2 separate regions of the Homo sapiens genome follow, and region 1 is linked to region 2. The links come from fine-mapping of genetic effects on gene expression. A gene starts in region 2. The other region holds a variant in brackets. All regions are shown on one strand. Distances are from middle to middle.

What was found. PIP is the estimated chance that this variant, and not a neighbour inherited with it, causes the effect. A credible set is the group of variants that fine-mapping cannot tell apart.
Region 1: its variant is the best candidate, but not a certain one, in a credible set for the expression of FUCA1 in whole blood (INTERVAL, PIP 0.70).

The regions. Positions count from the first base shown.
Region 1 is chr1:23,837,649-23,840,555 of GRCh38, forward strand. LOC105376861 (a long non-coding RNA gene) reads right to left here and starts at 988. Exons shown (of 3, transcript XR_947068.2): 1 at 416-988. The variant C/G (reference allele first, on the strand shown) is at 1,538.
Region 2 is chr1:23,866,860-23,869,766 of GRCh38, forward strand. FUCA1 (alpha-L-fucosidase 1) reads right to left here and starts at 1,431. Exons shown (of 8, transcript NM_000147.5): 1 at 1,039-1,431. The coding sequence starts at 1,427. RefSeq lists a silencer at 843-1,062.

The DNA.
Region 1 (2,907 bases), 29 kb before region 2:
ATGATAAGGAAAGGAGGGAAGGAATTGCTGGGAAGGGAAGAGCATGGTCCCTATAAATGACATAAAAAGGAGCGAAGGAAGTGCTGGGAAGGGAAGAGCGTGGTCCCTATAAATGATAAGGAAAGGAGGGAAGGAAGTGCTGGGAAGGGAAGAGCATGGTCCCTATAAATGATATGGAAAGGTGGGAAGGAAGTGCTGGGAAGGGAAGAAGAGCATGGTCCCTATAAATGACATGGAAAGGTGGGAAGGAAGTGCTGGGTAGAGGAGGACGTGAGAACGTGGTCCTTGACTGCAGCTCCACCCCCACAGACCTAGGTGAGGACAGGCATTTTTGTTTTCCTGTCCCAATGTTGCGTTTCCCAAGACCACCCGGCCTGCCCCGCCCCCATCCTGTGCCTATAAAAACCCCCAAGACCTTAGCAGGCAGACACACAGGTAGCCGGACATGGAGAGGAGCACATCAGTGGAGGAACACACAGGCGGCTGGACGTCCAGAGGAGCACATCAGCAGGCACTGGCACGCCAGCAGGCCGCTGACCAGCAGAACGACGCAGAGTTTGGCTGGGACTGTGGAAGGGGGTCCCGGGCTGCTGAGTGGCCCCACTCCAGGGGAAAACCTTCCTACTCCATTCTCTTCTGGCTTCCAACATCTGCTAAGAGCTACCTCTACTCAATAAAACCTTGCACCCATTCTCTAAGCCCAGGTGTGATCCAATTCTTCTGGTACACCAAGGCAAGAACCCGGCATATAGAAAGCCCTCTCTGTCCTATGACAAGGTTGAGAGCCCACTCGAGCTGGTTAACTAACACAAGTCGCCTATAGACAGCAAAACTAAAAGAGCACCCTGTAACACACGCCCACTGGGGCTCCAGGAGCTGTAAGCATCCACCCCTACATGCTGCCGTGGGGTTGGAGGCCCACAGCCTCTGCCTGTCTGTATGCCCCCCTAGAGGTTTGAGCAGCCTGGCACTGAAGAAGCGAGCCACACCGCCCTCGCACGCCACACTCCCCTCGCACGCCACACCCCCGTCGCACGCCACACCCCCCTCGCACGCCACACCCCCGTCGCACGCCACACCCCCCTCGCACGCCCTGAGAGGGGGAAAAGGAACTTTACCCGTTTCAGTTGCACAACATTGTGAAAATAATGCCACTGAATTGTACACTTAAAAATGTTTAAAGTGACAAGTTTTATGTTACATATATTTTATCACACACAACAAAAGGGGTTAAACATACAGTTACCATATGACCCAGTAATTTCGCCTCTAGGTATATGAGGGGACTTTAAAAACTTATTGGAAAATGGAATCAAAATATTAAAATAAAAAATATAAACCTCATTTCTCAGTATAAGCTCTATCAAGGGCAAGACATTTTTGTAAAGCTATGATATGCATTTAGTTTACCTTTAAAGGGCAGAGGGTCCTGGGAATTAAACCACGTCAATGCAGTCTTTTTTGCATTATTAACTGAAGAAAAATGGGTGCCTTTTAAAGATTTTTTTTTTTTTTTTTTTTTTTTGAGACGGAGTCT[C/G]TCTCTGTCGTCCAGGCTGGAGTGCAGTGGCACAATCTCGGTTCACTGCAAGCTCCGCCTTCCGGGTTCACGCCATTCTCCTGCCTCAGCCTCCCGAGTAGCTGGGACTACAGGCGCCCGCCATCACGCCCAGCTAATTTTTTGTATTTTTAGTAGAGACGGGGTTTCACCGTGTTAGTCAGGATGGTCTCGATCTCCTGACCTCGTGATCTACCGGCCTCCAGCTTTTTTTTTTTTTTTTTTTTTTTGGAGTCTCGCTTTGTCGCCCAGGCTTGAGTGCAGTGGCGCAATCTCGGCTCACTGCAACCTCTGCTTCCCGGGTTCAAGCAATTCTCGTGCCTCAGCCTCCTGAGTAGCTGAGATTACAGGTGCCTGCCACCACACCGGGCTAATTTTTGTATTTTTAGTAGAGACGGGGTTTCACTGTGTTCGCCAGGATGGTCTCGATCTCCTGACCTCGTGATCCGCCCGCCTCGACCTCCCAAAGTGCTGGGATTACAGGCTTGAGCCACTGCGCCCGGCCCCTTTAAAGATTTTTTTAAGATTACAAAACAATAAGAAGTCAGGAGCGTTGTCCTGAAGTGGGGAAGTACTCTTTGGTGAAGCTTTCCCTGGCCTTTCTGTTTGTTTGTTTTTGAGACAGAGTCTCACTCTGTTGCCCAGGCTGGAGTGCAGTGGCACAATCTCGGCTCACTGAAACCTCCTCCTCCCAGGTTCAAGTGATTGGGAGGCCAAGGCGGGCAGATCAGTAGGTCAGGAGTTCGAGACCAGACTGACCAACATGGTGAAACCCCGTCTCTACTAAAAATACAAAAATTAGTCGCTTATGGTGGCGCAGCCACTCAGGCTGAGGCAGAATTTCTTGAACCTGGGAAGCAGAGTTGCAGTGAGCCGAGATTGTACCACCGCACTCCAGCCTAGGCGACAAGAGCAAGACTCCACCTCAAAAAAAATAAAAATAAATAAATAAATAAATAAATAAATAAATAAATAAAAGTTCTGCTTTATAAAGCTGAGGTGGTGAGTTTAAAAAATTATTTTATTATTATTATTTTTTTTTGAGACGATGTTTCGCTCTTGCTGCCCAGGCTAGAGTGCAGTGGCTCGATCTTGGCTCACTGCAACTTCCACCTCCTGAGTTCAAGCAATTCTTCTGCCTCAGCCTCCTGAGTAGCTGGGACTACAGGCACGCACCACTAGGCTAATTTTTGTATTTTTAGTAGAGACAGGGTTTCACCATAATGGCCAGACTGGTCTCGAATCCCTGACCTTGTGATCCATCCACCTTGGCCTCCCAAAGTGCTGGGATTACAGGCATGGGCCACCGCACCTGGCCTATCTGGGTGCAATACTTTTAGCACCCATTCAGT
Region 2 (2,907 bases):
GTTATGGATCCCTAAGGCCCCTAGGAGACAAACACTTCCTCTGCTTAATCAAGTCTTATACTCCCATACATTTAATGGCAAACACTAAATGCCAGTTGTAACTTCTCTTTAGTACAAGTGAATTCAAAGTTCAAGAGAAACGAAAACCCGGAAGATGGCTGAGGAACCAAGGTAAGGATGGAAGACTGCTCTAAGCCAGGGGCTGGGGAAACCTCCCCGCCTCCATTTTTACTCTTCTCCAACCCACTTCTCTCCCAGCAGCCGAATGAATCTTTCTAGAAGCTGATAGTAACCACTCCCTGACTTAACATCTGTCAATACAGGGCTCTCAAGGCTCACTCCTTCAGGACAAGCCCCTGCCTTGACAACTTCATGGGTCGTGGTCTCCCCTTATCCCCACCCCAGCGCTCTCTACTCTGTTCTCTGAACCAGCCACCCCCAAGTTCCAACAGTTCTCAGAGAGAGTCAGACCCTTCCTGGACACTTCCTACGTAAAAGGGATTGAGAGGAGCAAACGAATGACTATCTGTACTGTTGCCCAAATACACTGCACACCAGAACTCCCCTCTCTTTCCCTCTTAGAGACATTAGGGCTCAAAGGGTTGTATCCTTATATAACCCCTTTCTACAACCATAGAAGAGGCTGCAGGGAGGCTGAAGTGACATGTCCAGGTTCACAGTTGAATTAGAACCAGGCTCCACACCACTGATTTGAAACCCTGGAGTCCTGATAGTGCTGTCAATCTGAAAGGGACATCAGGTATGGCCTAACTCAGCCCTCTCGGTGCACAGGTGCAGATACCCAGGGCTTCCCAGCCTGCCATCTCCCTGAACCTTCATTTATCAGTCCCCAGTCAAACGCACCTCCTCCTCCTCATCAGGTGTGCCAGGCTCACTCCTGTGGCCGCAGGAGGCCACACGCGGGCCCCGGGGTCATGGGGGCGACCGGCAGCTGCGCGCCCCAGCTGGCCGCCCAGCCCCACCTCCTGTTTGCCGCCCGAGCCGGGAAGGGGCGCCGCTCCCCGGGACCACACTCACTTGGCGCCCGCGGCCTGGAAGAGGTCGGCCCACTCCTCCGGGTGGAAGAAGCGCGCAGTGAACTGCGGTCCGAAGTCGGCGTAGCTGAAGCCGGGCGGGTAGTTGTCGCGCATGAAGCGCTGGTACTGCGGCCGCCCCTCGCCCTGCCAGTGCCACCAGAACCACTCGCTGCCCCAGGCGGGCACCGAGAACACGCCCCAGTGGATGAACACCCCGAACTTGGCTTCGTCGAACCAGGCCGGCAGCGGCCGAGAATCCAGGCTCGGCCAGTCTGGGGTGTAGCGGCGCGGAGGCTGGGCCCGACGCACCGACTCGGCCGCTCCGAGGAAGAGCAGCAGCAGCAACAGCGCGGGACCCGCCGGCCGCGACCTCATCCCCGGAGCCCGCATCGCTACCCCTCAGCGACGCGGCCCACTCTTAACGCGCAGGTGCCCGCGGGCGGCTCCGCCCACTCTGACTAACGATTGGCCCGGAAGGAAAAAGGGGTGGGACAACCTGGACAGGTTGGCCCGAGTCGCTTCCTCCTCGGGTCGGAGGAGCGCCCTCTGGTGCTCAAGAAGGGAAAGACGCAGGGAGGCGTTGACAGCGCTTCGCTGAAGGACGAATAAAAACCTTGAAAAGGGACTTAACTGCGAGGTTAAATCGTGGAGGTGAGCAAGGCCCAGTGTGTGCGGAGAACTCACATTTAAGAAGGAGTCCATTGAGCCGGACGCAGTGGCTCACGCCTGTAATCCTAACACTTTCGGAAGTCGAGGCGGGAGGATCGCTCTGAGCCCACAAGTTGGAGACTAGCCTGTCTCTATAAAAAATAAACAAAATGAGCCTGGCGTAGTGGTGCACGTCTGGAGTCCCAGCTACTCGAGAGGCTGAGGTGGGAGGTTCGGGATCGCTTGAGCCCGGGAAGTCTGGGCTGCAGTGAACCGAACCGTGATCACGCCTCTGGGAGTAGTCCATTTTGCCGCAGCAATCCTGCAGGGGTAGGCTGAAGTGAGATCACGAGTTTTATTTAGTGATCACTTGGGAGCCATAGGGGGCTTTTGAGTTGTCCTGTAGCACAAGGCTGGAGGAGGAGATAACAGACCGGAAGGGTATCTAACAGCCCTGACAGAAATAAGGAGGTAGAGGGATGATGGGAAGAAACGTTATGAAAGGAGAGGAAAGAGAAAACTGGGTACTGAAAGAGGGAGAGCGGGCAGGACCGTTTCATCTGTCTGGTATTTACTGAGCTTTCTTTGGGAATTCCGAGGCATTTCAAATAGCTTAGTTTGTACCGAGATACCGCCACTGCACTCCAGCCCCTGGGCGACAGAGCCAGACCAAGGAAGAAAGAAAGGAAGGAAGGAAGGAAGGAAGGAGGAAGGAAGGAAGGAAGGAGGAAGTGGAGAGCCAAGAGGACCCAGGATTGCCTGGCAGGGAAGTTCCCCAGTTCCTCTGCAATTTGCACATGCTGCACATACTCAAACGGGAGGTGAGGCCATTAGCGAGGGAAATACGGAAGTCAGAAGTCTCTGAACAGACAAGGTGGCTCACGCCTGTAATCCCAGCACTTTGGGAGGCCGAGGTGGGCAGATCACCTGAGGTCGGGAGTTTGAGACCAGCCTGGCCAACATGGTGAAACCCCATCTCTACTAAAAATACAAAAATTAGCCGGGCATGGGGTGCGCCTGTAATCCCAGCTACTCAGGAGGCTGAGGCAGGAGAATTGCTTGAACTCGGGAGGTGGAGGTTACAGTGAGCCGAGATCGCACCACTGCACTCCAGCCTGGGCGACAGAGTGAGACTCGGTCTCAAAAAAAAAAAAAAAAAAAAAGAAAAAGAAAAGGAAGAAGAAGTCTCATGACTCCACGTAGCACACTCAGTTCCCACATG